4 linked regions of the Homo sapiens genome follow. The protein of the gene in region 1 purifies or fractionates together with the protein of each later gene. This does not show direct contact. Each region holds a gene or a part of one and is shown in the gene's direction. Other genes may lie near its edges.

The links. The genes of interacting proteins can lie anywhere in the genome.
Region 2: the proteins of SMAD6 (region 1) and NASP purify together in Homo sapiens (affinity purification with mass spectrometry, with the first as the bait; one study listed by BioGRID). This does not show direct contact.
Region 3: the proteins of SMAD6 (region 1) and ZEB1 purify together in Homo sapiens (affinity purification with western blotting; one study listed by BioGRID). This does not show direct contact.
Region 4: the proteins of SMAD6 (region 1) and ACVR1 purify together in Homo sapiens (affinity purification with western blotting, with the first as the bait; 2 studies listed by BioGRID). This does not show direct contact.

Annotation. Positions count from the first base shown.
Region 1 is NC_000015.10:66,708,736-66,712,235, forward strand, and holds part of SMAD6 (mothers against decapentaplegic homolog 6), read left to right. Parts: coding exon of another isoform or gene 1-3; intron 4-1,659; exon of another isoform or gene 1,660-1,738; intron 1,739-2,932; coding exon 2,933-2,989; intron 2,990-3,500. UniProt on the Homo sapiens protein: Transforming growth factor-beta superfamily receptors signaling occurs through the Smad family of intracellular mediators. SMAD6 is an inhibitory Smad (i-Smad) that negatively regulates signaling downstream of type I transforming growth factor-beta.
Region 2 is NC_000001.11:45,606,979-45,612,518, forward strand, and holds part of NASP (nuclear autoantigenic sperm protein), read left to right. Parts: intron 1-342; coding exon 343-1,359; intron 1,360-5,540. UniProt on the Homo sapiens protein: Component of the histone chaperone network. Binds and stabilizes histone H3-H4 not bound to chromatin to maintain a soluble reservoir and modulate degradation by chaperone-mediated autophagy.
Region 3 is NC_000010.11:31,324,654-31,330,193, forward strand, and holds part of ZEB1 (zinc finger E-box-binding homeobox 1), read left to right. Parts: intron 1-5,540. UniProt on the Homo sapiens protein: Acts as a transcriptional repressor. Inhibits interleukin-2 (IL-2) gene expression. Enhances or represses the promoter activity of the ATP1A1 gene depending on the quantity of cDNA and on the cell type.
Region 4 is NC_000002.12:157,774,353-157,779,892, reverse strand, and holds part of ACVR1 (activin receptor type-1 precursor), read left to right. Parts: intron 1-1,550; coding exon 1,551-1,762; intron 1,763-5,540. UniProt on the Homo sapiens protein: Bone morphogenetic protein (BMP) type I receptor that is involved in a wide variety of biological processes, including bone, heart, cartilage, nervous, and reproductive system development and regulation.

The DNA of each region.
Region 1 (3,500 bases):
AAAGTAAGTTAGTGGTTGCCCAGGGTTTTGGGGTTGGGGTCTAGAAAGTGACTGCCAATGGGGATGGTGTTTCTTTTTGCGATAAAAAAAATGTCTTGTGTTTAGATGGTGGTTGATGGTTGCACAACACTGTGAATATACTCAAAAACCACTGAATGGTATATTTTTAAAAAGGATGAATCTTAGGGTATGTGAATTATATCTCAATTTTTGGAAAGGGTCACCTGATATTGGTCTGTAACTGGCCTCCCCTGTAACACCTGCAGCTACCTTCATGTGTGGCCTTGGGCAGGTCCTTCAGCAAGTGGGACCTTAGTTTCATATCAGTGAAAAGAAGGAATTGAGTTGGGTGAACCCCAAGGCCTCTTCTGTCTTTGACACTCTAAATCCTTGTGTTGTGGGGTGGAGTCTAAAGCCTTCATACTTTTTTAGTTGCCTACAATGGAATTTAGTGATTAGCTTTCAGTCCCTGCAGTTGTTAAACAGTTGTGTGCATACTATTTTGCCAGAGCTAATGGGAGCCTGGTGAGGTCCCTCCTGAACGGTTTGTAGTGCTCCACTAGCTGGCATGTCTCATGGTTCAGGTTCATAGATTTTCTTTCTATCTCACAACATTGGAACTCCCAACTCAGCTATGGCCATGGGTAGCAGGTGTCACAACTCAAGGCCCAGGTAGCTCTTCCAGGTGGGACTTCATGAGCCTTTCCTGCCTTCCACCTTTTGAGTCCCAGGTAAGCAGCCCCTGGAAGAGATGCTGGCATTGGTTACAGAGGCTTGACTCCAGCCACTACTGCCCATAGTTGTCAAGATTCACCTTTGGGGACAAATCTTGGGGGCAGATGTTCAGAGCTCCATGCCATGTGTGGCCTAGACCTCAGCCAGTCAGATTTTTGCAAAAGTAACCCTAAGGAATTGCAGGCTTTCTGATAAGTTCATGGGGGTGGTGGAAAGGGCATGGAGGTCAGAGACCTGGCTTTGGTTCTGGCTCGATACCTAGCTCCTGAGGGAGTCACTTCCACTCACCAGGCCACAGTCTCCTTCTCTGTACAGTGGAAACACTGGCCTCAATTCTCTTTTCCTGTGGAACTCCAGCCCTTCCTATGCCCTGCCTCTTATCCTGAGAGGCTGGTCCTCACTCAAGGCTGGCCTCTAGGCCTGAGAGCCCCCTAGATCCTCTTTCTGCACATCTTTGGCCACAGATGCATTCAACTTTACCATTATCCTCATCCCAGTTGTCTGTGTCCACATTTAGTGAGCGCGTTCTGTGCAGGTGGTGTCCCAGACCCAGCGGGGATGAAGGGGTGTAAGACAGGGCATCTCTTGATTCCACCTTATTGGGTGGCAGAGCAGAGTCAGGCCTGGACTGGAATCCCAGCTCCACCATGACTGGCTCGGGGAACATGCGCAAGTCAGTTTTCTCATCTGTAAAATGGGGATAATAATGTCATCTCATTTAATTTTTGTATTTTGAGAAAGGATTAAATAAAAATAGGTGCCTGATGAGCATAATTAACTACTCTGTACCTGAGGTCTAAAATAGTAAAATTGAAAGTGATTGGCATGGAGTGAGACACAACGTAGACACCGAGCAAATGTTCGCGTCTCTCTCAGTGGCTACTCTGTGATTCACTTTTCCTTCTCCCTAATTTCTGTCCACAGAAAGTCTCTGTTTCTAAACCTCAGAGCTTTGACTTTGTTGGAAGTAACTTTGAGCTGGAAAAGCCGGGGTGGGGAAGAGGTGAGGCCTCATTGGGTGTATGGAGCAAAACAAATGCTCCTGTAACTAATTGTGGCTTATTACAATTGTGAAAAACACTTATTACCCCTTGTGTCATTACTGATACCCGCTTAATAATAGTTATTACCACTGAGAGTTTGTTTTAGTTTGCGATTTGATTGTGTTTAGTTTCATTTACCGAAAATGAAGGGTCATTTCATTCATGCAAATTGTTACTTAGTTTAGCAAATTGTTACTTCCCATAAAGCAAGAAGCTAAGGAATTCTTCTGAAAGCAAAGTATATGTTTTTAAGGAGAAGTATTTTAGGCAAATGAAACCCAAAGAAAAATATCATAGACAATAAGGAATCATAGCATCTGAGCTGTAGAGAGCTTGTGTTCCACCCCTGTCCTTTACAAAAGGGGAGACTGAGGCCAACAGCTGGAAGTGACTGGCTTAAGGCCTATTGAGATAGCTGGGTTTGGCCTTTTGGGTCCTAACCCTTTCTACTGTCCTCCCCTGCACCTAGGAATGCTAGCTCTAATGCAGCTTGTTTGGACACGAGTTTCTGTGTCTGGGCCTTTGCACTCACACTAGGCTTGCCAAATTTAGCAAATAAAATGCAGGATGCCCAGTTAAATTCGAGTATCAGATAAACAACACACCATATTTTAGTATAAGTACACCCCCAATATTGAAAGGGACACACTTATACTACAAAATGATGCCATGTTTATCCAAAACTCAAATGTAACTGAGCATCCGGTATTTTATCCAGCAACCCTGGCTCTGACTTTCCCTGCACTCACGTTTCTCTTGTTAAAGTAGTAACAGTTACTGTTTATGGAGGTGTTTTTGGACAGGGCCAAGAGCTGCACTAAGCATTTTACATACATTATCCCAGCAAACCTGGGAGGTCTAGATGATTATTATCCTCATTTTAGAGCTGAGGAAACAGGCTCAGAGAGGTGAAGTAAGTTGCTTGAGGTCACACAGCCAAAGGTGGCAGAGCTGGGATTGAGCCCATATCTGTCTGTGCCCCAAGCCTGCGGCTTTAACTGTTGAGGGGATTTGGGCAGCAGAGGAGGTGGGACAAAGGGAGGGCTTCCTGGAGGCTGAGTTTATTATTTGGGAAACCAGTAATTAAAAGCATGTAGAACCTGAGGTGTGAGCTCCCCAACCCTGGCAGTGACATGCTGTCTCCTGTCTTCCAGAATCTCCGCCACCTCCCTACTCTCGGCTGTCTCCTCGCGACGAGTACAAGCCACTGGGTAAGTGTGCCCTCCTTCCTACCCTTGCAGAGGTGTGTCCCGAACTGGGTCCTCTTCAGCCCAGTGTCTGTCCAGCCTCAGGGCTGGAGGGCTGGAGGGCTGGAGGGGAGGGGTGAAAGCCGGACTGGTTGCTGTGAAATGGGGTGAAGTTGTACAAACACTCCCACAGTTGGGCCAAAGCAGACCCAGCTTCTGCAGCAGGCTATTTACATCTCGAAATTCCGCGGCTCATCATTAACCTCTCTGTGACCTTTTTAAACATGGGCCTGTCGAAGATGAATGGGTTTTGACTTATGCATCTCACCGGAGGTGGGTTGGCATTTCTGTGTCTCTTTCCTCTCTCTTGGGCCCCCCAGCCTTGGGTTATTCTCCTTTAGAGTGTATTAATTAGTAGTATGACAAATAGGTTGGGCATGAAGTCTTTGTTGAGAGGAGCTGTACATTTTCCCCCTTTTTAAGCCAAGATGTTCACTTGAGCAGAAACAACAATTGGAGTGTTAAAAAGGAATGT
Region 2 (5,540 bases), on another chromosome or scaffold:
GTGCGAAAATTATATAATTTCTAAGCTGAATTTGGCTGCTATAGTTTTACATATCAGATGGGGGAGAATGAAAAGCTTGGCATCTCTTACCTAACTGGTAATCAGAATGCTCAAGTAAAACAATACCTAGTGTAACAAGCTTGGGTTTCTTTTGCAGTAAGTTGCTCTGCTAGCCGGGATGCTCCCTTTCCTTTTCTCTAGGGGGCAGATAATTTTTAGGCCATCTGCTGAAACTTGGTAGGCTTTTTGAGGGTTTAAAGGGAATGTATTTTTAGTTTCCATTTATGCCTTTATCATTAAACTCGAAGACATGTTTATGCTTCATGTTCTTTAACCATGTAGAGGAAGCAAGGGAAGAGTTGAGAGAACAGGTTTATGACGCCATGGGAGAAAAAGAAGAAGCCAAAAAAACAGAAGACAAGTCTTTGGCAAAGCCTGAAACTGATAAAGAACAGGACAGTGAAATGGAGAAGGGTGGAAGAGAAGATATGGATATAAGTAAATCTGCAGAGGAGCCACAGGAAAAAGTTGACTTGACTCTAGATTGGTTAACTGAAACCTCTGAAGAGGCAAAAGGAGGAGCAGCACCAGAAGGACCGAATGAAGCTGAGGTCACTTCTGGGAAGCCAGAACAGGAAGTACCAGATGCTGAGGAAGAAAAATCAGTTTCTGGAACTGATGTCCAAGAAGAGTGCAGAGAAAAAGGAGGTCAGGAGAAGCAGGGAGAGGTAATTGTGAGCATAGAGGAGAAGCCAAAAGAAGTTTCAGAAGAGCAGCCTGTGGTGACTCTAGAAAAGCAGGGCACTGCAGTGGAGGTAGAAGCAGAGTCTTTAGACCCGACAGTCAAGCCAGTGGATGTGGGTGGGGACGAGCCAGAGGAGAAGGTAGTTACCTCTGAAAACGAGGCAGGAAAGGCGGTTCTTGAACAACTGGTAGGTCAAGAAGTACCACCTGCTGAAGAGTCACCAGAGGTGACAACAGAGGCTGCAGAGGCCTCAGCTGTAGAGGCTGGATCAGAAGTCTCTGAAAAGCCTGGGCAGGAGGCTCCAGTTCTCCCTAAGGATGGTGCAGTCAATGGACCGTCAGTTGTAGGAGATCAGACTCCTATTGAACCACAGACTTCTATAGAAAGACTGACAGAAACAAAAGATGGCTCAGGACTAGAGGAGAAGGTCAGGGCAAAGCTGGTTCCTAGTCAGGAGGAGACTAAGCTGTCTGTAGAAGAGTCTGAGGCAGCTGGAGATGGGGTTGATACCAAGGTAGCCCAGGGAGCTACTGAGAAATCACCTGAAGACAAAGTTCAGATAGCTGCTAATGAAGAGACACAAGAGAGAGAAGAACAGATGAAAGAGGGTGAAGGTAACCGGGATATGCAAGAGCTGCAGTGGGTGGAGTACATTCTGGATTTGACTCACTAATTATGGGTAAAAGTCAGCCTTCCATTCAGGATTTTCCGTCTGCCTTTGGATTAGGAAAGGGCTAAATGAAAAGGGGGGTAGTTTAACAAGGTCGTGATAGTCAAGTAAGTTCAATCAAAAGCAGCAAGTCTTCTTTAGCTGGCTTATAAACTAACACTTTTACTAACTGCAAAATAGGCCTTCTGTGTGATTTCTGAGACTTGGCTAGCTATCAGTAACTTGTTGCAGCATACTAGCCAATAAAGTGGGATGGAAAAGGTAGATGAGGGGTGGGGTAGGTAGGGAAATAGTGGGCTAGGCTGGCAGAGAATGCTGAATGGATGTTCACTTGCATGCCTCTGGATTTTAAAATTATTGTTCACATGACTCCTTTTCTGTGCGTTGGGAAGCAGCTACAGAGCAGTAGAATCCACTGAATTGGTACACTGAAGCAGGCATGCCATTTAAATGAAGGCAGTTAACCTTGACTGTTGTATCACCAGAGTTAAAGAATTCTGGTGCCCCTCTTTAAGTCTTCAGGAAGTGTTTAGAGGCTTATTCACATTAGTTAAAACAGGCCCCCCCCACCTTCCCCAAGGCAACAGAAAACATAACCATTAGCTCTCTTCCTGTTTTCCTTCCTCATTTCATGCTTGCTTCGGCTGCTAAACTGAATTTTTGTTACTTAGAATATTATAAAGTGTGGATGCTTTCTATAATGCTATTGGTCTAAGTGTGATTAAATTTCATTAAGGTGTATAAGCCTCTAATTATTACATAACTGGCACGTCTGACTTTTGCTATCATTTGAGGATTCTACTGTATATAAGTTTCATCTAACATTGGCATTAATAACCACAGGTATATTCCAACTAATTGTTACTTCTTGTAATTGCCAGACTACTTCAAGAGTTCTCGTAAGTTTTAGATTTTCAGAGACCCATCTTCAATACTTTGAACTCATTCTGGTAAACTTCCTTCTACCTATGTGCAGGTCCCTGTACTCCAGCCAACACAGGCTCAGTAACTGGAAATGAATTGGCTAAAATGGTAGCACCATTGGGTTTCTTAATGGAGCTTTAGGAGTTCTTTATGGAAAAAAGCACAGAACTAAATTCCTCAAAAAACAAACAAACAAAACCACACACACAAAAAAACAAAACTCCCATGTCTTGATCTTAATGATTGTGAGCAAGGATGGTAAAAAGCTCTGCTGGCTGACCCCTAAGACCTTGAATGGTAAGCTACAATACAGATATCACAGTCCCTTACAGATTGTTCGAAAACTCGTTGGATCATAATTAACATTGTTAGAACTCTCATACATTACATCTGATCCTAAAACAATACTATGTGATAGGTAGTATTGCCCAAGTTACAGTGATGAGGTTGAGGTTTAAAGGTTACATGACTTGTTTAGGGTCATAATACTGAATCTGAACCCAGATCTGCCTTGAATATATTATTCTTCCCAAGTTACCACACATTGAAGAAGACAGTGTTCATCCTTTTCCTACACCCACTGCTTAGAAATTTTGTCGTGGGCTGGGCGCAGTAGCTTCACACCTGTATCCCAGCACTTTGAGAGGCCGAGGTGGGCAGATCACATGGTCAGAAGTTTGAGACCAGCCTGGCCAATATGTTGAAACTTTGACTCTACTAAAAATACAAAAATTAGCTGGACGTGGTGGCATGCGCCTGTGGTCCCAGCTACTTGGGAGGCTGAACCAGAAGAATCGCTTGAACCCGGGAGGCAGAGGTTGCAGTGAGCTGAGATCATGCCGCTGTGCTCCAGCCTGGGCAACACAGCGAGTCTCTGTCTTCCAAAAGAAAAAAAAAATCTGTCACTTATTTAAAAAGTTAACTATATTTTAAAAGCCCCAGGCTTTTCATATGCTGCATTTTTTGGTGTTGTATATCAGATACTGTTCTGCTTGTAAAGACAATACAGTTTTCCATATTTTACAAAAGAAGAAATGGGAGAAAGGGGTTTAAGTAACTTGCCCTAGTCACACAGTAAGGAGAAGCCTGCTACCCAAACTTCTGGCTTGAGTACTCAACCACTTACTTTCTGTGCTTTATTTCCCTTTACGTGGCAGCACCATTCTGCAGAAAACTTCCAAGCAGTTTTTTTCACTTAAAAATTAAAACCCTGTTTACTGCCACCTCTTGACTCTTTGCCATGTGTTGGGCTGTACATTTGCTTCTAATAAAGATAATTGGTCTGTTCTTTTTCTCTTTGAATCGGGTCTTGCTCTTTTGCCAGGCTGGAGTACAGTGGCATCGCAGTCATGGCTCACGACAGCCTCAAACTCCTATGCTGAAGCCATCTTCCTCCCTCAGTCTCTCAGGCAGCTGAGACTATGGGTGTGTATCACCATGCCCAGCTGGGGTGCAGTGGTGCGGTCTCGCTCACTGCAACCTGCATCTCCCAGGTTCAAGCGATTCTCCTACGTCAGCCTCCTGAGTAGCTGGGACTAAAGGCACATGTCCCCAGGCCCGACTAATTTTTTTGTATTTTTACTAGAGATGGGATTTCACCATGCTGGCCAGGTTGGTCTCGAACTCCTGACCTCAGGTGATCCACTAGCCTCAGCCTCCCAGAGTGCTGGGATTACAGGTGTGAACCATTGCACCTGGCCCACCATACACCATTATCTTCTCATATCCACATTTCCAAGTGGGTCCGGGCTTAGTTCCCCAAAGTTAGACCAGATGGATGGTCTTATTAACTCTGCCCATCCTCTAGCAGAATATGCAGAAAAGCTGAAGTAGATTTACATATGTAGGATAATTGATAGAAAAGTAAATACTTCATCTTCCCAATTTGTAGGAAAAATTAAATTGATATTGTTATCTTCTATTCTTACCTGGTATCTCTTCCTACTCATACCAGAATACTAGAAGACAACCTCTAATTTGAAACAAAATATCTTAATTACTTGGAAGTTTTACATCAAATTTTTAAATTAAAATTCCTATAATTGCTTCAGAAGAATATTACTGGTTCCTCTTGAGGAATCTGTACCATCTTCAAGGAATGGTGGGGAGCTAGGTTAAGGAGAAAGCCATCGCCATTACTTTTTTTTTTTTTTTTTTTTTTTTTTTTGAGACAGAGTCTTGCTCTGTCACCCAGGCTGGAATGCAGTGGCGTGATCTAGGCTCACTGCAACCTCCGCCTCCTAGGTTCAAGTGATTGTTCTGCCTCCGCCTCCCGAGTAGCTGGGACTACAGGCATGTGCCACCACGCCTGGCTAATTTTTTGTATTTTTAGTAGAGACGGGGTTTCACCGTGTTAGCCAGGATGGTCCCAATCTCCTGACCTGGTGATCTGCCCACCTTGGCCTCCCAAAGTGCTAGGATTACAGGTGTGAGCCACCGCGCCTGGCAGCCATTGCCATTACTTTAAAACCTTTCCCAACTTGTGCCCAGGTATCAATGGCAATGCCCTGATGTCCTCAGTAAATTTGTTAAAGTATCTTTTTTTTTTTTTTTTTTTTTTGAGACGGAGTCTTGCTCTGTCACCCAGGCTGGAGTGCAGTGGTGCGATAATCCGCTCACTGCAAGCTCCACCTCCTGGGTTCACGCCATGCTCCTGCCTCAGCCTCCCAAGTAGCTGGGACTACATGCGCCTGCCACCACACCTGGCTAATTTTTTTGTTTTTTGGTTTTTTTTTTTAGTAGAGACGGGGTTTCACCATGTTCGCCAGGATGGTCTCAATCTCCTGACCTCGTGATCCGCCCGCCTCGGCCTCCCAAAGAGCTGGGATTACAGGCGTGAGTCACCGCGCCTGACCCTGTTAAAGTATTTTCTAAGCTTCTTTGAAAACGGAATCTCTTTGTGGTTGCTGCTGATAAAACTCCTTTGACCTGACGATTGCTCTAAGTCCTAATTGCCATATTTATATTCCCATAGTAAGAGTGTTTGGAGATAGTGTTTGAGCTTTTTTGCTGGTGTTAAAAATGCATAATGAAAGATGGCAGAGAGAGGCATATTATATCCAATTCATGAGTTGTTTGTGTTAACAGAAAGCTTATTTTAATCACTTAACATTGTTGATTTGTCTAATCACAGTAGCGCTATTGATTAGGAGCCTGACCTTTAGATGGTTGACTTGTGAGTGTATTCAATATGGTGAAATA
Region 3 (5,540 bases), on another chromosome or scaffold:
ATGTGGAAATGCATGCTCTTTATTTCTAATTGAGATATAAGCTAAAATAAAAGTCCATTGTTGAAAGAAAACTCAAAAAATTTTAAACTAGAAAAAGTGTCCTGATTAGGAAATATGATAAAATGATTTTTTAAACTACTTTTTAAAGGGTAGATGTTGTACATATTACTGGCTAAATAATCATTCAACTAGATATGAACTAAAAGTAGTAAGCAAGTAGAAATATATGTAGTAGAGAAAGTTTTGTAGCAACCCTAGTTAAAATTAAATTTGATCTATTATGTAGGCATTGCCATATAAACTAATCATTCTTTTGCATGGGGCAGTGTTTTGAGTATTATGTCACTAAAGGAAACATCTTTAGGACATTAGTTTTACTAAATAAAAATTTCAATATGTTATGAGCATGTCTGGATTTTAGCCTTGATGGAGGTGGGTTACGCTGTTAACTTAAAACTGGGTTGCTTAAAAAGATGGCAATATAATACAGTACTTAAGTAGCAAAATGCTCTCTAATAAGTAAAATTTGCTTTATGATTGTTTTCAGAGAAAACAACTTAATTTTTAGAACTTCATTAATTTTGTTAAAGCATATTTTTGGATTATATAATATGGATGTAGATAAATGGAAAGATTATGAAAGGAAAAGCAAAAAATTGAATTCAAGTGTCTATTTGTATTATAGCTGTGAAACTTTAAGCTTTTTTCATTCTCTACAAAGTTACTTTTCTCTTTCTTCAAACAGCTCCCTGTTGTTTAATACACGTTCCCTCTATACATAGGGATTGCATTTATCTGTCCATATGCACATTTCTCCTCCTAATCAACATTATGTATTTATTGAGACTTGGTACATGGAGGTTGAGGTATGAACTATGTTTGTAGAAAACCTTACAGTATGGCAACCTGGGAAAACCTTCATCTCTTTTGCAGTAACAACTACATCTGTGCTGAAATTATTCATAACAGATGTTTTGTGATCTCTTAATTCCCTCCCTCTCCCTTCCCCTCCCCCATTCAGATTTAAAATTAAATGTGAATGGAAGATAAATTTATAAATTATGTTAATTTCTTTTTATTGTTTTATTCTATATTGAAAGTCCTCTGTTTTCTCTTTTTAAAATATTCTAATTTTAAATGTTTAAGATATTTTAAGTACTCTGATTTCAATTATCTTTTAATAAAATATGACACCATTATTTATATATCTGTTACTATTCATGCTCACGGCCTAAAATATATTCTGATTTCCCTTACTCTTAAGGTCTTTGTATTCATTTAATCCACAATTCTAGCAGAGTGTTTGGTTTTGGGTTTTTTTTTTTTTTTTTAAGTAGATAGTGCTGAGTGTAACTAGTTTGCTGATGAAAAAAACTCATTTTCTTGGAATCATATATTTTTAATATGGAAGATTCATCTTTTCCAAAATAACTTTTTATCTGAAAACTGACACAGATAAGCTGAAATTTAGGGTCTTTAAGTAGAAACTCTAGAAGAGACTTTAATGTGTGTTTTAAGAAGGGGTAATGCCAGGCAGATACAGTGACATATGGAATAACATGTAGTGAAATCCTTCAAGGAGTAGATTTTCTGAACCTGGGCTCAGGGTAACCTTGCTCTGCCTTGAATACTTGAAAAGGCTGTCAAAATCACTGTATCTCTTTAACGTTTTCTCCTTTCTACCCTAAAGTTAAGTTGCTATTTGCTCCTATTGCTACATCACTTTTCTGAATCTCTTTTGATACACTTGGCTTTTGCTTTATTTGGGAGGGAGAAAGTAAAGGAAGGAGGAATTGGAGTAGACAAAAAATAACTTTATATGAATAAATATTCATTAAGAAAATGAAGTGGAATAATTTTGGACTGGAGAGATTTGGGAGAATCATCCAAAGCCATTTTGCAGTAAAGCAGACAGTCAAAGAGATAAGATGACTTTGCCAAGTTTATGTTACTAGTTAGCTTGGACTAGGTCACAGCTTTTTGGGTTCCTAGTTCGGTATTCTTTTCATTAGGTCATTTGAGCATATTTATCTAAGACGGTAACAAGCAAGAACTAGATACCATGAATTTTCAAATTTATTATACTTAAAACCAAAATGTGTAGAATGCTTCATCATCTCAAAGGCAAGTTCTAATACATATGCATACATCTGTCAAATTTAGTAGTTGATGTAGTTATATCACTTAAAATATTTCAGATGCAGAGCATTAGTATTATTTAGAGGCATCCTCTCATTTGGATTATACTTTTGGTCACTATTCCCAATTTCAGCTCCCATTCACTCTATCCTTCCTACCTTGGACCCAATCTAATATGTTTTTTATATGCTGTTGGTTTTGTAGCTAGCCTTGTAAAATTTTGTACCTCTTTTGTGTGTTTTGTATTTACATAAGTGCTATAAGTGCTACTTTGCTCTATCATTTACTTTCTTTTTCTTTTCTTTTCTTTTTTTTTTTTTTTTTTTTTTGAGACAGTTTGACAGTTTGACTCTTGTCACCCAGGCTGGAGTGTAAAGGCGCGATATCAGCTCACTGCAACCTCTGTCTCCCAGGTTCAAGTGATTCTCCCGCTTCAGCCTCCCAAGTAGCTGGGATTACAGGCACACACCGCCATGCCTGGCTGATTTTTGTATTTTTAGTAAAGATGGGGTTTTGCCATGTTAGCCAGGCTGGTCTCAAACTCCTGACCTCAGCTGATCCACCTGCCTCAGCCTCCCAAAGTGCTGGGATTACAGGTGTGAGCCACTGCACCTGACATATAATTTACTTTCTTTACTTAGCATTGTTTGATAGCTAGATATGTTGCTATATGTACAGCTAGTTCATTGCTTTTAACCTTGCAGTAGTTCATTTATGTAGTAAGCACAAATTACCTATCAATTCCCCTAATGGCAGATTCCCAGATTGACTCCAATTCTTAGATACCAATAATTCTGTAATAAACATCCTCCTACGTGTTGCTAATGGCTGTGGAAGAGTTTCTCAGCACTACCATATCTAGGGACATGGTATTGTCCAGACATAGTATTGCTGAGTATAGGTCAATCACATATTTAATAATTACTAAATTCTGTCAGATTATTTTAAAAACAGCAACACCATTTTTTACGCTCACCAACAATGTAAAAGAACTATTTTCTCACGTTTTTGCCAGCCTTCGGTATTGTACAACATTCTACATTTTGCTAATTTTTCAGTTGCTAAATATAATCTGATAGTTGCTTTAATTTATGTTTCTCTGTTTATTAGGGAGGTTGATCATTTCTTCATATCCTTGCTAGCTGTTTGGGTTTCCCTTTCCATATCTGGCCTATTCATACCCTTTACCCCTCTTTTTGGATAGATTTCCATTTCTCTTGTGTATTTAAGATGATAATCCCCAACGTTTCAGTCATTTGACTTTGGTACAGGAATCCTTAATTTTAATGTCAAAATTTTGACTTTATGGGTAGTAAGAAGTCCTTCCTAATCTATAGATTATAAAGATATTTTCCTGGATTTTCTTCTATTAGTTTCTTAGTTGTATTTTTTGTATTTATATGTCTAATGCATCAGGAGTTCACCTTTTGAATACACCCTTTCTTAAGAGGAACAAGTATAGCAGTTAAGAGTTTGGGTTGATCCTGTAACTTACTACCTATCACCCTGGCCGGGTTACTTAGTCTTTTTATGCTTGAGTTTCTCTGCATGTAAATTGGACATGACAGTCTAAGAATTGGGAAAGTTTAAATGAAGCATATGACGCATTGTGCCTAATACATGTTTTAAGTTTTCAACACATGTTCATTTAAAATTTTACTTATTTATTTTAAATATATCTTGGATCAGCTGACAATTTTTTATCCTTTTGACCAGTATTAACTCCAGCTAATGTAACTACCATCTGAAAGGGGGTTGCTGTAAAATTTGTACATTGTTTGTGTAACTTTGACATTTAACATTGCTTAGTTCAGACCTTGGACAAAGCTGTTAAATGATCAATAGACACTGAAGCTTCATCTTAATGCTACTTTTGGTATGTCTTTCAGCTTTAGGAAGGATTCCTTGGATCTTTTTAAGGGCCATTATATGAGAGAGACCTTACCATATCACTTTTATGTATAACATTGACATGAACTTCAAGGATAATGTCCCATTGTTATTCTGTTACATAAATCAAAGAACTCAAGTCCAAGGAATAAAAGCTGTGCATTCTATATTTGAATAGTCTAAGCAACATGGAGTCTGCACCTTCTCATATATCCATTTGGCTGGGAATGTATTTAAGAAGATGGCTGTCTTACTGTGTTCCTATGGTATAGATCAGGACTATTCTAAGCCAAAAGTTAAAACCATACCCTGGTGTGTGTGTGTGTGTGTGCGTGTGAACTTAATTGAGGTATAATTTATATACAATAAGATATACCACTATGCATGTACATTTTGATAGAGTTTTGACATACTTGCATACATGTGTAACTGCTACCACAGTCAAGATGTAATAGAACATTATTTCCATCATCCTAAAGAGTTCTTGTGTACTTAATCTCAGCCAATCTTCCCCACCTATTGCCCCCTAGCAATGATCTGCTTTTGGTCACTAGAGGTTAGATTTAATGTTTCTAGAGTTTCATATAAACCGAATCATGCAGTATGTCCTTTCTGTGCACCTTCTTTTGCACAGGATATTATCAAAATTAATAAGTATCAGTAGCTCATTCCTTTTGTATTGCTGAGTAGTATTCCATTGTATGAATGTTATATCACCAAATACACAATTTGTGTCGCCATTCACCTGCAGTGGAACTATTAACTTGGGTTGTTTCTGGTTCTTTGCTCTAATGAATAAAGCTACTGTGAACATTTACATAAAATTTATATGCATATATATCTTACATTTTTCTTGAGTCAATACTTAAGAGTACAGTTATAGTACAGGTAACTGTACTTCTAAGTACATATAGTAAGTATATGTTTAACTTGGTAAGAAGCTGCAAAATTGCAAACTGCTTGTAACAAACATTTTTACATTTCCACCAGCCATGTATGAGAGTTCTGGTTGTTCCACATCCTTGCAAACAATTGTCCATGTTTTTAATTTTAACCATTCTAGTAGATGAGTGGTAGTATCATTTTGGTTTTGATTGGATTTCACCGGTGACTAATGATGTTTGAAGATCTTTTGGTGTATGTATTGGCCACTTGTATATTTTCCTTTGTGAACTGTCTGTTCAAATAATTTGTCCATTTTTAATTGGATTGTTTGTCTTTTTATTATTCAGTTGTAAGAGTTCTTTGTATATTCTGGACCAAAATTTTTTGTTGGATACAAGTATTAAAGATATTTCTCTCTTTCTGTTGGCTTATCAGTTTTCTTAATGGTACCATTGAAGTGCCAAAGCTTTAAATTTTGATGGAGTTTAATTCATAATTTTATTCATTTAAGCTTTGTGTCCTTTCTGAGAAATCTTTGCCTATTCCAGATCTTCAGGATTTCTCCCATGTATTTTTAGAAGCTTATAGCTTTACCATTTAGGTCTGTAATCCATTTCAGGTTAATG
Region 4 (5,540 bases), on another chromosome or scaffold:
GATAAAAGAAGGCTCACTGACCTCTTCTCCCATATCTGATGCCCAGTGACCCTATCACTGAAATTTGAAGCAGGATGAGATTTCGCACAAACCCTGTAGTTTTTGTGGAATCTTCTCTCTACCATCAGTACAGATTGCATATGCTAAGGAAACCAGTCCAGCTCTGAAACTGTTTCCCTATTAAATGAGCCCTAAATTGCAATCTTAAAGTCTCTGCAAACATTTATGTAAACTCATTCCAAGCCAAATTTATTCTCTTACCATATAGTACATTTTTAATAGGTTTAGTTATTTAATTTTGCACTCAGAAAAAAGAAACAAACCAAAAAGTGGAGGAGAGGTAACGACGAGCATCCAAAACTAGAAATGTCAGCCAGCAAGAAAGGAGGCAGAAGAACAAAAAAGCTGATGCAAGATCATGTTCTAGTAATTTTGAAGTTATGGTGATGACTTTAAGGCATATGGAAAAGGTTAAATTCTGACAAGCAAATAGGATTGAATAATCAAAGAGGGTTTTAAAGGAGATCAAGTATTTACATGGTTAAAACTAAAAGGGTCCTTGATGGAATAAAATTTACTGTTATACTTTGTGAGTTAAATTTTTATTAATTGGGTGGATGGACATAAACAAATGTCTGAATTCATACAAACATTATTATACCAACTGTGAAGTTTCTAATCTGCAGATCACTCTGCTAGACCTTGAGTTTTAATAGAAGATTTTTTTTTTTGAATTTAAGGACATTCTAATCTGATTAGCGTGGCCACAGTATTTATAATTCAGCGTTGCATTTTGTTAGTTTTACACTTTCTCATGCAAATGACATATGCCATGGAGTATGATGTATGCCAAGCTGTTGATTAGTTGGGCTTGGAAAGTTAAACAAATACGTAAAGGAAGTTAAGCTTGTGATTGGATGGCTGAAGAGACCAGTAATATGGAAATGGGTAAGGCCTCTGTAGGGAAGAACAGGGCCTGATGACATAATGTCATGGAGAGGTCTGAACCCAGGGAGTGAATCAGTGAATGAATGTCTGAATAAGCGAGTAAATGAAGAGAGGAATGAATGGGTTCCTAGGCAGAAATTGTGATGTAAAAAAATCAGTGAGAAACCAGCAGTAGACACCCAGGATATATTAAAGACAGAGACCACAGATGGGTAATTTGGTTTTAGCTCAGGTAGCCCTTTCTCTTAAGGATAGTACAGTGTCTGTAAGGGCTTGATGGCGAAACATACCAAATCCAAGTTAATGAGAGTAATATCAAAGATTTGTACAGTACTTTATATTTTAAAAGCACTCTCACATTCATACATTAATGCAATTGATTCTCAGTGGAATTTTTTCAAATTCTAGTTGTGTCTAATTGAATGATGGTTAAAATGTCTGGGCCATTGGCCAGGCATTAGGAAGTGTTTTAGTTTTAATACTTCGTGAGTTGTGAGACTGTGTGGTCAGGATCAGGAGCTACTTGTTAGGATATTGGTTATGCTAATAATAAGTAAGCAGTGATCCTTACAACTAATTCCCCCTTTTCCCTCCAACTCCAGGAAAATCCTTCCCTGGAACACAGAATTTCCACTTGGAGGTTGGCCTCATTATTCTCTCTGTAGTGTTCGCAGTATGTCTTTTAGCCTGCCTGCTGGGAGTTGCTCTCCGAAAATTTAAAAGGCGCAACCAAGAACGCCTCAATCCCCGAGACGTGGAGTATGGCACTATCGAAGGGCTCATCACCACCAATGTTGGAGACAGCACTTTAGCAGTAAGTCATGACCCCACAGGAAATCCCAAGCATAAGGAAGGTGTCTGGAGACACGTTCTTATTTCGAGCATGAAACGCTAACCAGTAATGAGTGACTGAACAGTGTACACACATGCTGTTGGTTACTTATGTCCTAAACAAGCACATGCTGGCACCTGTGTAGTCTTCCCATATCAGAACAGCCATTTTAGATAGACATTTAAATAAGGGATGGGATTTATTTTAGTAGTGTTGGTAGTTAGTTACTTTTCTCTGAGGGGTAAAGCAAAAGAGACAGAGAATGGTTGCCTACAGTTTTGGAGGGTTGGAATTTGTGGTCTTCAGTTACTCTATTTTTAGCCATAAAAGTGCTCCTTTAAAAAGGCACCTTTTGCTGAATATTAAATATTAATTTCCTTTCTAGATTATTTCAGCATCCTGTAATTTAAGGCTTAAAAACTTGACATCCAAAAAAGCAGCTTTTAAATTTTGTATGCTCCTGTGGTGCCCTCTTGTGGAGTGCAGTCATTTGGTTAAACCGGTGTTGTCCAATAGAAACATGTGCATCACATGTAATTTAAAATTTTCAAGTAGCCACCTTAAAAACAAACACATGAAAAAACCCAAAAAGTTTCGTAAAAGTAGATTTAATTTTAACAGATATTCAACCAAATACATACCATCTTTGTCATTTCAACGTATAATCGATTAAAAAATTATTAATGTAAATTTTACATTCTTTTTGCTTTTGAAGTAAATTTTCAAAATCTTGTGTGTATTTTACACCTATAGCATATATCAATTCACACCAGCCACAGTTTACTTGCTCATGGCAATGTGTGGCTAGTGATTAACCCGCTGGACTGCACAGTGTTAGAAACTATTGTATTTATACATTAAAAAATTATTCTTTTGCATATTTTTAAATGATAAAATCACATTAAAAAATGACTATCTCCTTCTATTTACCTTTTAAAATTGCTTACCAAGTGTTCATTTTAAAGACGCTTTGAACTTTAAGTGGGGAAAGGGTATCACTTGCTCTAAATAGAAGGTTATCATAAAGTGCAAAAGAAAAAATAATAACATTCTGCATGGATATTATGCTGAGTCTGATGCCTACTCTGAAAAATTTGAGATTTGTGGGTGTTAAGTGAGTGCAAGAGACATGCCAATACCAATTTGAGACTCCTTGTCACAATCCGATTAATTGAAAGACAATCAAAGTAATAACTTTCTAATGTGATTCAGTTTTACTTAATGCCATTGCCCATGTGTATTTGAAATCATTTTGCAGTAAGTCTTGTTCTGCTAGACAGCAAGCTTCAAAGTGTCTGATAGTTCTGCAGTTACACTTGCCCTGCAGCTCCCCTTATGCTGGAGAAGACTTCCCCTCACCAGTGACCATCTGGGTAGCACAGATGCTACACCTGGACAATTGCAGGACCCACCTGTGGCAGGTTGTCACAGACATTTGGTAGTGCCTGATATGGGCTGGGAAACATCCCATTCTACTGCCTGCCCCATCCATCACTGGGCCACTTTTTGGTATGTAAAAGGGGGAAGTAACCTTCTGTAGCTTCCATTTACCTACTGTTTAAACTGTGGTACAGTGGAACTGGGGAAAGAGAATGCAGTATAAGGACATTTCATTTCAAAAAGTAGAGAAATACAATTTTTTTTGTTAGATATATACTTAGAAGTCTATTTCAAGCTTTAAGGAAAATTAAATGAGTTTATTGAGTTAGTAGCAAGAAGATGTGAGGATGAATCCTGACAAAGCTTTAGCAAAGCAAGATTCTAAAATAGGTTAGTTAGAACTTCATTCCTCAGAGCTGCTAACATAACTAATTACCAAGGGCAATAATAGGAATATCTGGTATAAATTACTGTTTAAATGGCTTTTAGAATTTTGAGAGAGGAATGGAGCATATGCCAAAATAGTCCTTTAAACTCAACCATGTCATGTGACAGTGTATCATGATATAATAACACAGTAAAGAACACTATTTAAAACAAGTTGTCATTATTGGTCTACATACTTGCTTATTTAAGCAATATGCTCATTTGTATGTTTCAACAAAGCATGCCCTTACTAAACAGCACGTCTACATTGAAAAACAAGCCTTGGCCATGCATGGTGGCTCATGCCTGCAGTCCCAGCACTTTGGGAGCCCAAGGGGGAAGATCACTTGAGACCAGGGGTTAGAGACCAGCCTGGGCAATATAGTGAAACTCTGTCTTGAACTAAAGAAAAGAAAAGAACAAAAAGAAGGCTTGGCATCTGAGAGTTGGGATATACGTTTGTTAGTCTTGGGTTGATTTTTTATTTTTCTTTCCTTAGGTCTGTGAACAGGGTTTAGAAGCAGGATCATACATTATGGAAAAAATAACACATTAGTTTAATTTTCAGAATTATTCTTCTCGAAAAAGAATGAATGAATAAGGAGCAAAAAGAACCGCAAGAGAGAAAATGGTTAGGGAGATATGAAACTCTGCTTCATCTACACTCATTTTCTTGTTGATTATCCCTTTTGTGGTTTTTAAGGGTTCTAAATTTCTTCCGTTGGATGCTCAGCTTTTGGTAATTTTGCCGATCAACAGTACTTCACAGTGGTGCTCAGAAGAAGTGAAAGAAGATGAAATTCACACAAATCAATGTATTGCTTTAGTAGGCCAGCCAAAATGTTTGGGAAAGGATGAGCTTTGGGGAATATTAAGTCAATATTACTGCAACTCTACCTTTATCACCCATCGGCACAATATTGTTTATTACAGATAATCTATGCCTGATACCTGCTTCTTGGCTTATGCTGAGAGTAAGAAGGAAAACCTTATCAATGAACTAACTGGGAATCTTTTTGCCAACACCTTCATTTGTAGACATTGACTTGGGGCACTGGTTTTATGTTTTCAATGAAAGCTTTATTTGTTTTCTTTTCTGATTTGTGAGTGATTCACATTAAGAAATGATAAGTAGGTGTTGATATAGTTTTGCTCCTCACCTGCCTAAAAGGAAACCTCCATCCAGGCAGCCCGTTGCTGCCTGCGCTTACCAATTTAATGATCCACATGGTCATTGGAGTCTTTTCGTTACAAATCACATTAGAGTTGTTTGTTCCTTATTCCTAGTTTGTTTGTTCCTAATTAGAGTTCCTTAGTTGGTATGGCAACTAAAGTGAATCATTTGACAGATACTTAGTGAGAATAGCAAAATATGTAAATTATACCCAGTTCTTGAAGTTGAAAGGACCCCCCCCACCCTTTTCTGTTCCACCTGCTATTCTCTCTACTGCTTTCCTTGAGATCATATCTGCTTCTTGGGCTTTCTGATTTACACCTTCAACTTTGTCTGCTCAGCTTCTTTCATTATATATTTTATTTGGAAACTCTGTGTATAAGAAAGGACTACTTATCCTTCGGGAAAACCTATCATATATTAGGTGAAGTGCTAGCTTCTAGTATTCCGAAGAAATAAAACTTTTCCTGGCCAGGCGTGGTGGCTCATGCCTGTAATCCCAGTGCTTTGGGAGGCCAAGGCAGGCAGATCACCTGAGGTCAGGAGTTTGAGACCAGCCTGACCAACATGGAGAAACCCCGTCTCTACTAAAAATACAAAATTAGCCGGGCGTGGTGGCGCGTGCCTGTAACCCCAGCTACTTGGGAGGCTGAGGCAGGAGAATCACTTGAACCCGGGAGGTGGAGGTTGCAGTGAACCCAGATTGCGCCATTGAACTGCAGCCTGGGCAACAAGAGTGAAACTCCGTCTCAAAAAAAATAAAAAATACAAAACAATAAA